Linked DNA regions of Homo sapiens: region 2 is linked to region 1. The links come from fine-mapping of genetic effects on gene expression. Tissue or cell type: prefrontal cortex. Region 1 holds a variant in brackets; the other region holds the start of a gene. All regions are shown on one strand. Distances are from middle to middle.

Region 1 (5,363 bases):
TCATCTATTCATAAGGACAGGACCAAATCACCTACTAAAGGCCCCACTGTCACATTGGGGATTAAGTTTCTACATGAATTTCAGAAGAGACAAACATTCAAACTATAGCAGTGACCTCATCCAACCAGTTGAAGGCCTGAATAGAACCAAAGACTGACCCCACCTCCCAATCCCCCTCCCCCCACCAGTAAGAGGGAGTTCTGCAGCCACGACATTGAACCACAACATTGACTTTTCCTGGGTCTCCAGCCTGCTGGCCCACCCTGCAGATTCGAGACTTACCAGTCTCCAAAATCACATGAGCCAGTTCTTTAAAATAAATCTCTCTCTTTCTCTCTTTCTCCATCTTATTGGTTCTGTTTCTCTGGAGAACCCTGACTAATACAAACAAGATAAGTCTTTGATTTTTGAAGGTAAGTGGAACTAATCACAGACATGCCAGAGTCTCGCACCTTTGACCTTTGAAAATGGCAGATATTTAATCATCTTTCCAGCCTAGTCTGCGGTTTCCAGTGCTGGCGGTTCCCTGTCAGTTGTCATGGTCTCCTTCATGTTGGCCAGAGTCTGGAAGTGTAACACCCCCAGATGTGTTCAAATTGGTCCAACTGCTGGATAATGAGTGGATGGAACTTCCACTCTTGCCCAAGTTAGGGGAGGGGGTGAATTTCCTGAGTGAGCTCCCTTTGGGGAGAATTGGGGATACTCCAAGAGTGGTAAAAACCCTGAGTGGATTCTCCAAGAGAAGAGTGGCCGTTGCTGACCTCGTGGCTGGCCTTCAAGGCCCGACTTTAAAGTGACTGCAAAATGAAATGCAATCCACAGAAGAGAAGAAGTTGCAAATGGTGGCAAGCGTAAGAAGATATGCTCAGCCTCATGATGCCAAAGCAAGTCCAAGTTCACACAGCAATGAGCGCATTCTGTGGAAACTGGCAGGATTTGCCTACAACTGCTGTTTCTCAGCCAGCGAGGGGAGGGGTCTACAACCCAGATGTGAGGGTAAATTTGAACAACATTTTAATTTTTTTATTTTTATTTTTATTTTTTTTGAGACCAAGTCTCGCTCTGTCGCCCAAGCTGGAGTGTAGTGGCGTGATCTCGGCTCACTGCAACCTCTGCCTCCCAGGTTCAAGCGATTCTCATGTCTCGCCCTCCCGAGTAGCTGGGACTACAGGCACCCGCCACCACACCCGGCTGATTTTTTTGTATTTTTAGTAGAGACGGGGTTTCACCATGTTAGCCAGGATGGTCTCGATCTCCTGACCTCGTGATCCACCCGCCTCGCCCTCCCAAAGTGCTGAGATTACAGGCGTGAGCCACCGCGCCCGGCTGAACAACATTTTTAAAGCCGGTTTGGCAATTTCTGTCAACATTTTAAATGTGCATACCCCATGACCCAGCAATTCCTCTTCTAAGAATTTCTCTTATAAAAATGCCTGTGCAAGAACGCAAACATATGTGTACAAGAATGTTCACATGACAGCATTTGAGACAGCAAAAACTGGAGACACAAAACATCCACCTTAAGAGGAATAGTTATGCAGATTGTGGAATCATCATTATAATGGAGTCTTATGCAGTTATTAAAAAGAACAAAATAGGTGTATGTGTAGGCAGGGAATAATCTCCTTGACATTTTGTTGAATAAAAGAATCAGCCTTCAGAAAACTATGTATGGTATGAAGCATTTTTGTTAATTCTGTGTGTGTGCTTATGTGCTTAGCAAAATGTCTAGAAAAATAGATGCCAGGCTATTGAAGTGGTCACCCCTGGTAGTGTGATGGGGTAGGGGAGGGGGATGAGGAGAAGGCTTTCTATTTTATTGTATACATATCTCTATTACTTGACTTAAGAAATGAGCATATATTACTTAGTCAATAAAACAAAAATATTTTTTAATGCTTGCAACAAAAATGCTGATGGAATTTTAAACCAGGAGGAGCAATGTTAAGGCTTCCTCACTCTGGGAATTGGACTAAAGGTGACTTAGTCTTAAAGGCAACTAGAAAAGGCATTAATTCTATTAATTAATGCCTCAGCGATTT[C/G]CATCTCAGCAAAGATGTCTTAATGAGGCGCTCGGGACACCCATTATTTATCTTACAAATGCAGCTCCAGGGTCCTGCCCATGTCAGGCAGTGTAACACACGTCCCCGCGGAGGGCTGGCGCTGCAGAAGCTCCCGGTCCACCCCCTCCTGCCCACACCTGGCCTCACCCTCCCCATCTCTTCGAGGATGACCTCTGTCCCAGTCCCTTGGACCCCGACTCCTCCACGATCTGGCCCCTCCCCTCATACATTGCATTTCGGGACCCCCGCAAAGGAATCACTTCAGCCTGGACTGCAAACCGCACTCCTACACCTCACTATGAGCACCTTGGGGGTGTCCTCCAACACCCCCCGCCCCGCCCTCTCTCTCCTGGTCTCCTTTCGTTCGAGCTGATGAGGAACTGACGACCCAGAGTCGGCCTGTGTGAGGCCCGTACAGGTGGCTCCCGAAGTCTTTAGCGGCACAGGGTCGGTCCCTCCAGGCCGACCTGGTAAAATTCCCGCATCTCCCGCAGGCCGCCCTTCTCTGGCCCCTGGACCCCGGGCTCCTGGCCCGCGCGCACCAGGAGCTGTCCGCGGTGCTGACCGCAGGCGCTTCCCGCGCTCGGCCGATGCGCACGCGTCCCGGGAGGGGCGCGCGGGACCTGCCGGCGCCGCCACTGCGCAGCCTCCCGCGGCCTCCCCGCCCGGCGCAGCCTCCCGCGGCCTTCCCGCCGCCGCTCTCGCCCGGGCCGGCCATGGCGCTCAACAATTTCCTTTTCGCTCAGTGCGCCTGCTACTTCTTGGCCTTCCTGTTCAGCTTCGTGGTGGTGGTCCCGCTGTCCGAGAACGGCCACGACTTCCGCGGCCGCTGCCTGCTCTTCACCGAGGGCATGTGGCTGAGCGCCAACCTCACGGTGCAGGAGCGCGAGCGCTTCACGGTGCAGGAGTGGGGCCCGCCGGCCGCCTGCCGCTTCAGCCTGCTCGCCAGCCTCCTGTCTCTGCTGCTGGCCGCCGCGCACGCCTGGCGCACGCTCTTCTTCCTCTGCAAGGGACACGAGGGGTAAGTGGGGGCCGCTCCCGGCGCGGCGCCCCTTCCATGCCCCCAGCGCCCCCAGACCCACCTCCCCGGGGAGGCGCGCGAGTCCCTCCGTCTCTCAGGCAGCTCCGAGGCCCGCAAATGTCAACAATCCGCCCTCACCCCCTCCACTCAGACCGCCCTTTGTCTACACACACATCCAGGGACCATGACGACCACCGGTCCTGCGTACAAGGCCAGTGCCTCCCCTCCCCAGCTGCGCATCACCTCCCGCTTCCGGGCATCTGCTCCCTTGGGTTGCAGATGTTGCACTGTCATCACCCAGCAGGCCTGGACCTTCCTGGGCGGGCTCAGCCGGGCCACACTCGCCAGGACCGGCGACAACTCCCAGCCCGGTCTAGGGCTTGCACTGAGCTCTCCAGGTCCCAGTGACAAGGCGAACTGGGGAGCCCCACCCGGCACCATCGCCCCGGGAAAGGGACGGCAGATGGCTGTCTGGAGGGGAGCCACCCAGGCCCACCTCGAGCTCAGGCCTTGGATGGGGAGCTGGAGAGAGACTGCAGGGCGAGGGCTGTGCCTTGTGGGCTCAGCGCCTTCCTCCTCCTGGCCTGCATTTTCCTCTTTCTCTTTCCTGCTCCGGCTAGATACTGGAGCCCATACAACCTGGTTCACCTGGGGTGCGGTGACACCCTTAGCCAGTGGCACCCTGGGGGCCCTCTGGGGGCCCACCCACTCCCTCTGCAGGTGCTCTCTGTGAACCCTCCCACTCCCTCTGTGAGCCCACCCACTCCCTCTGTGAACCCACCCTCTCCCTCTGTGGGTGCCCTCTGTGAGCCCATCTACCACCTCTGTGAATCCACCCACCCCCTCTGTGAACCCACCCACCCCCTCTGTGAGCCCACCCACCCCCTCTGTGAGCCCACCCACTCCCTCTGTGAACCCACCCACTCCCTCTGTGGGTGCCCTCTGTGGGCCCTCCCACTCCCCTGGCTGAGGCCTGCTGTGCCCAGGAGCAGCCCGAGATCCTGTAGAGGTTCCGGGAGAGCACTCATGAAACCCAGGCTCCTCCCAAACTCTGCCCTCACCCCCATCCTTTGTTGTAGGTTTTCACTTCCTGCACGCAGGTGGGAGATGAGAAGGGCTCAGAGGGGTGTGGGCGGCAGGAGTGGGGAAGCCCTCCTGTTGCCCCCGCTGTGAGCCCACCGCTTGGTTTTGGCTGAGAGAGGGGCCAGAGAGGGGAAGAAGAGGGGCTTCAGGGAGAAGGGAGGGAGCCAGGGCTATGCTGAGTGGGGCTGCAAACTCTGGAGGAGGAATGAGAATCCCAGCGCCTGTGGGTAGGAGCGCCCTGGGGCTGCTGCAGCACAGTTGCACCAACTGGACTGAAACCCACTTGTCCCACCACCCTCTGCCGCTGTCCTCACAGGGCGCCTTTGCTCTGCTCTGTCCTCCCTCTTTTTACAGGGACACCAGTCACTGGATTCAGGGCCCACTCTAAACTCAGGGAGATATCCTGAGATCCAGAGCTTAATTACACCTGCAAAGATGCTATTTCCAAACAAAGTCACAGTCACGGGTACCAGGGGTGGGACTTGGGCATATCTTTCGGGGGACACCATTCAACCCACGACACTAAGGTTCTGGATGGGGGTCAGTAGAAAGCTGGCTGTCAGCCTGGGAGGACCCAGGTACTGTGGGGCCATGGGCCCAAATTGTGTGGCTGGAGCCCTGCTCAAGGTGGGGTCAGGCCGGGCGCAGGGTGGTGTCCTGCCCATTTGCAGCCGTCCTCCTTCCCTCAGCCCACTCCAGGGCTGGTGTCCCAAGAAGAGGCTTGAGACGTCATCTGCACCCATGTTGCCAAACCCAAGAGTTGCCCAGTCCATGCTGTGCATGCAGGGCAGGCAGGTGGAAGCCTCCCTGAATGAGACAGGTGTGAAGAGGGAGTGGGACAGCCAGCGAGTAGGGTCAGCCTCCCAACGCTTGAGGTCCCTTTAGTCTGGGAAGCTGAGGGTGGAGGGTGCAGGCCAGGTGGGGCCACAGTTGGTTCATCGCTCACGCACTTCTTCACCTCCTGGGTGTCCCTCAGGGTGCCTGTGGTCCAGCTGGGGCTGACAGAGGGTGGCTCTCTAGATAGGACCCAGCTATGTGGTCAGAGTGATGGGAGATTTTATAGGGGGTTCCACCAGAAGCTGGGGGACAGGGAGAGGGGAGAAAAGAGCCCCAGAGCTTGCAAGACAGGAGTCCAGGTCGCACAGGGTATGGTCTATTTCGCACACACTGGGCGGCAGGCCCAGGGATGCCGTAAC
Region 2 (5,363 bases), 25 kb after region 1:
TGCTCCCTCCCACTCCTGCCCCGTCCTCCAGGACGCCGCCCGCTGGCTTCCCGCCTCCTCCCAGGCTGCTGCCTCTGCCTGGCCCGTGCCGCCCGCCCTTTTGCCCACAGCCCACCTCCTGATGTTTCTCTGTCCTCCCTGAGGGTTCCTCGGGGCGGGCAGTGCCCCCCATGCAGCAGCTGGCTCGTGAGAAATCCTGACATCCCACCCACCCCACATGGGAGGTCCTTCCTCGGCTCTGAGCGTGCGGCCCCACACTCCCGGCTCACCCCTCGCCTGGCACTGCCCTTCCTCGGCTCTGAGCGTGCGGCCCCACACTCCCGGCTCACCCCTCGCCTGGCACTGCACCCATTCACACGGCAGCCTCACAGCCTTCCAGGGGCAGAGGGTCCCGGGGCCTGAGCGAGTGCAGGCTGGGGCCAGGCTCCCTGTTTCCCTGTTCCAGGTGCAGCCTCCCCCAGGGCAACTCACTTGGGAGCTGGAGACAGGGGGCCAGGCTCCTGGGAAGCCAGAGACCTCCCTGGGAGAAGCTGGAGACTCACAGCCCCCACCCCCACCACTTACACACACACACATACATACTCTCTCTCTCTCTCTCTCTCTCTCTCTGCCCCTGCCCACCTGGGCTCCTGCTGGTGCTGTACCTCCGGGGTGGCTCAGGCCTGATCAGCCCCGAGATCCACTGGCGGTCACAGCCTCGCTGTCGCAGGGTGTGAACCAGAGCTGTTGCGGCTCACAACCAGCTGAGAAGTTTCCATTACGGCGACACTGAGCAGTGGCCTCAGCGGCCCTGAGGGCCCCGGCTGACTTGCTGCTCTCGGGACAGCCCGGTCCATGGGGAGGCCGTCAACCACGGGCTTGGTGGCCCCAGGAGGAGCTGGGCCTCCTCAGTCTCCCAGCACCTTAGTAGTTTGGCCACAGGCCTAACCCAATGGCCCTGGGGCTGCAGATGCAGGTTGTGCCTTCTTCCGGTGGAAGAAGACTGGGACCATGGACACTGCCTCGCTGGCCTTTCCTCTGCAGGGCGGAGGCAGAACACAGCCAGGCGGGGTGGCTGGGCTCCTGGGAAAAGCCTTGGCTCCCAGCCCAACGCTCACCACTGGAACCACGCTGGCAGCTCCCCAGACAACATGCGTTCTCGACTTAAGTAAGAGGGAGAACTTGTGGGGAGGCCCCTGGCTGGGCTGACCGCCCACTGGGCTTGCTCAGGTGCCTGCAGGCCCTACCAGGTAGGAACAGGAGCAGGAGCTGCCTGGTGGCCCCCTGAGGCCCCTCTCCATGCCTAGATGGGCCCTCACATCCCGAGGTGCAGTTAGGGCTCGAGGTAGCAGCAGTACCGGGTGATGGCTGCTCATCTGCTGGGTGCAGGGGCCACCCTAGGCCTCGAGAGCTCCAGACAGACAGGGCGGGGGACCCCCCCAGGCCCTTCCTCCCATATGTGGAATGGGGGCTGTTTGCCAACTGTCCAGGGCACTGCAAAGCTCAGTAGTGCCCAAGAAATGGCGTGGCGTCCAGTGCTGGGTGGGGGTCCCATGGCCACACAGGGCAGGACAGGGATTCCTTCTGACTGACGGCTCAGAAAAGAGCCAGTTCTCAGGGATTCCCAAACACTGAGAACTAGGCTTCAGTTACTGGAGTAACGAATCCATTCCTGCTAGGCTGGGCCTGCGTAGACTTGCCCTCGGAGGATGCCCCCCACCAAGGCCCTTCAGGGAAGGCTGGCTGGGTTCATGCCTGGCACGGCTGCCTGCATTCCCCTGAGAGTGCAGCCCCTTCTCCCACTGCCCAGGCTGTTTCGCGCAACATCAGGTGCCCTTTGGAAGCTCCTGTGTGGCCAGGAGCACCCCCGCTGCTAAGTTTGAAGTGGCCGTGTTCCCTGCTTCCCCCAGAGGCGGCCTGGCCTCAGTGTGGACACAGGGCCGGCCTGGGACTGTCTCCGTTTTAGGGAAACCATCAGTCCCAGGAGAAGGGGGAAGGGTGGCCACTCTGGAGCTTGTTCAGGTCACTCAGGATCATCAGTGTGTGCTCTGCCCAGTCTCTGCCCACACCTGCTGCCCAGCTGGGGCAGGTTCCCCACCTGCACCTGCCTTTGGCAATCTCTCCGCTCTGCCCAGTCTCTGCCCACACCTGCTGCCCAGCTGGGGCAGGTTCCCCACCTGCACCTGCCTTTGGCAATCTCTCCGCTCTGGCATCTTCATACCCAAGCAGGAAGTGAGCCCCCTCTCCCTGGGGCTGGAACTCACCTGGTTCCCTCCTGGCTCCCCGAGGGACAGAAACAGGCTCTTCGGGATCTCCCTGTGGGGCACAGTCCAGTGAGGTCCTGGACCCTCTTGGCCGGCAGCACCCCTCCCAGGCCCTTGAGAGTTGAGCCTCGGGCAGAACTGCAGGGCACACAGGTGAACGGGCCAGGCCCGCCCAGGCCTCCTTCCCGAGGGCTCTGATCTGGAGGCGCCACCGCCCGCTGGCAGGGCCGGGTCTGTTGTGGCCTTCGTCCCGTCTCCAGCCCTCTCTGCTGGATCGCAAAGCTGGGCCAGCTGGCAGCGGCCAGGCTATAATTACCTCTCCCCTTTGGCAGAAATAGCAGTGAACCCGAGGACAGGCCGCTGGCCCCGGAGCAGAAGGGGGTGGCTGTTTCCCAGGCCCCCGGTGGACAACAGACCATGATTTCAGATAAGACCAGAGTTTGCTGCTGTTCCTACCCCTCCCGGCCCAAATGTGCCCCCTCCCAGGTCAATTCCAGAGCTGTGCAGCTCTTGGAAAAACCTATGGATTGGAATTCGGGGCAGAGTGGGAGAGGGAGGGCACTGTGGGGCTGCGGGAGGTGAGGTGATCACAGAGTCCAGCCTCCAATAAGACCCTGACCCAGCATGGGGCCTCCGTGGTGGCGAGAGTGCCCGCCCTGCCCCAGGCCCCTGTGCCCCTGTGAGTCCTGACCTGGGGTTGCCAGAGGGAGAGGCAAAGAATGGGTCCCAAGCTGCCGTTTTGGGGCACACTGGCCGACCCTCGATATTGCCCTGGCAGGAAGGGGCAATGTATGGGTCAGTGAGCGATGGCAGGGGTGAGGGATCAGCCTTTCTCAGGGTCTGTCCTGGGTGGGCGTCCAACTGCCCTGCCTGGCGCTGCTGAGTCTGCCCCTCATTTGTAGGTGAAAGTGCAGCTCAGAGAGTTGAGGCACCCTGTCCAGAGTCACACAGCCCGGAGGTGGTAGCCTGGCTCAGGCTTGGTGGCCCGTCCTCGCCAGCCCCCCCGTCTGCTGGTGCATGTAAAGGCAGGTCTGAAAGAGGCTGGTGAGGGCATCACTGGCGCAGGGCACCACCACATGTGGGCAGACCCCTGCCTGGTTTGTGGGGCTTTGACCTGTTTCAGGGGACTGCTGGAGGAGGTGTGGAGAGACCCGTGTTTCTCCATTAGGAATGGGGGTGCATCTCCCTTGGGTAAAGCTACAGGACCCCTGGGAGCCCAGGGTGTGCCAGGCTGGGGGACAGTGTGCACAGAGGGTGACTGCTCAGGGCCAGCCGTGGGGCTGCATGGACACAGAGTCCTGGAACCCACCGTCAGAGCATGAGCAACGCAGCCACTGGGATGGGGTTCAGCAGACCGGCCCTCCCCTCACTGCCGTCTTCAGTACAGGGCATGGGGGAGCAAACTTTTCTCTTACAGGGCCATATGGCACACAGTGCGCTCTGTGTCTACACAAACGGGGTGGGCCAGATTGGCAGGAGGGCCTTGGCTCGCTGACGCTTGTTCCAGGGAGAGCACTGAGGAAGGCTGGGTGGTCCTGCTGGCAGTCTGGCTTCCTGGGAAGAGTGAGGTCCTGTAGCCAGACAAGACCCTCTCCCGCCTGTGCCCAATCTGGGCGCTTATCCTTGGCTTCCCAGGGCTGGAGCTGCTCCTCCCAGATTTCAGAGGTCAGGCTGCACTGCCCGAGGTCGGGGGGCTCCGGGACAACTCCTTCCTGACCCTTCTCATTGACAGAGGGGAGGGAACGGTCAGCCCACAGACCTTGGGTGCCGCCCCCTCTCTGTGCTCCCTGGAAAGGCGATGCGGGCTGACCCTGTGGACATTCGCTCTGGGTAATTTATTAGTGAGCTGATGGCTCGGCTCAGGGCTCAGGTCCCAGCGGGGTCATATTTCCGGCCGTATCTGATAGGGCTCGGCTGCACCCTCCTCGCCTCCGTCCATTGCGCCTCACTCCAGCCTGGGCTCTGCAGGGCAAGATAAGGCTGGCCCAGGGGAGTGCTGAGCTGCCGGGTCCGCGGAGGGTCCCCAGTGCCTGTGCCAGGCAGTGCCAGGGAAGAGCCCAGTTGTGTCAGGCCTGCCTGCAGCCGGCAGGTGGGCACATGTGCCCACGGGCAGTGGTGCCAATGACGTGGTGCCCAGGTTTGGGCCCAGCTCTGTCACTGTTCAGCCAGGTGACCTCCGCCACACCCTCATCTCTCCCCGGGAGCTGGGAATGATCGGATGCCCCACCCTCCCCAGATCTTTGTGGTGCACCCACCCTGAGCAGTGCCCCGGGAACACAGCAACTAAGGCCAGCTGTCATTCAGCGGGAGGGCGGAGCATGTCCAGTGGCTGGGCACTCCTGAGCGCTGGGAAAGTCCAGCGAGCTGGCTGGGCTGGGCTGTTTCCTTGGGGTGGTCCTGGAAGGTGGCCGGGGTGGAGTAGGGCGGCACGTGGGAGTGGAGGCTGCAGGGGCTGGAGATTGTGGCTACTCTGGTCATGGCCACGTGGTGCTGGCCTAGACTCCCAGCTCTCCCTGGACCATGGTCTGGCTGGAGTGCGGAGAGCCCTGGGCCTCAGCATGGCCTCATACATGGCTCCAGGCAGGGTCGGGGGTGGGGCTGGAGGGTGTGGAGGCCCTAGGCTGACCTGGGCCAGAGAAGAAAGGGCCGGTGGGTGGGGGAGATGGGGGTGGGGTCCACAGCTGGTTGAAGCAGAAGGACCCCAGGCACAAGAGAGGCCAGCGTTGGCCCAGGGGGTGGGAGTTGGCCGTGGCCCTCTTGCGCAGAGGCCTGGAGGCTGGCCCTTCCCCTGTCTGGCATACAGCCCGGGGGGAAATTCGTGCAGGCTGGCCGACTGCAGCACCAGGGCTTGTGGTGGAAATGGGTCCAAAGGTTCTCCAGGCGTCTCCGGGGCTCAGGGCTGCACCCCTGTCAGCTGAGGCTGTCCTGAGCCCAGCTCCCTCTGTGGTAGTGAAAACGCCCAGCTGAGGCTGTCCTGAGCCCAGCTCTCTCTGCTGCAGTGGGAATGCCCAGCTGAGGCTGTCCTGAGCCCAGCTCCCTCTGTGGCAGTGAAAACACCCAGCTGAGGCTGTCCTGAGCCCAGCTCTCTCTGCTGTAGTGGGAACACCCAGCTGAGGCTGT

Direction of the effects. Alleles are on the strand shown, and positions count from the first base shown. SD is a standard deviation of normalised expression in the study named.
For the expression in prefrontal cortex of the gene that starts at base 2,483 in region 2, allele G in region 1 goes with a lower level than allele C (moderate effect, 0.41 SD a copy in BrainSeq).

Evidence for each region. PIP is the estimated chance that this variant, and not a neighbour inherited with it, causes the effect. A credible set is the group of variants that fine-mapping cannot tell apart.
Region 2: it holds the start of C14orf180, and the variant in region 1 is the best candidate, but not a certain one, in a credible set for the expression of C14orf180 in prefrontal cortex (BrainSeq, PIP 0.88).

Annotation. Positions count from the first base shown.
Region 1 is chr14:104,602,158-104,607,520 of GRCh38, reverse strand. TMEM179 (transmembrane protein 179) reads left to right here and starts at 2,749. Exons shown (of 4, transcript NM_001286389.2): 1 at 2,749-3,084. The coding sequence starts at 2,780. The variant C/G (reference allele first, on the strand shown) is at 2,043.
Region 2 is chr14:104,576,884-104,582,246 of GRCh38, reverse strand. C14orf180 (chromosome 14 open reading frame 180) reads right to left here and starts at 2,483. Exons shown (of 5, transcript NM_001008404.3): 1 at 2,244-2,483.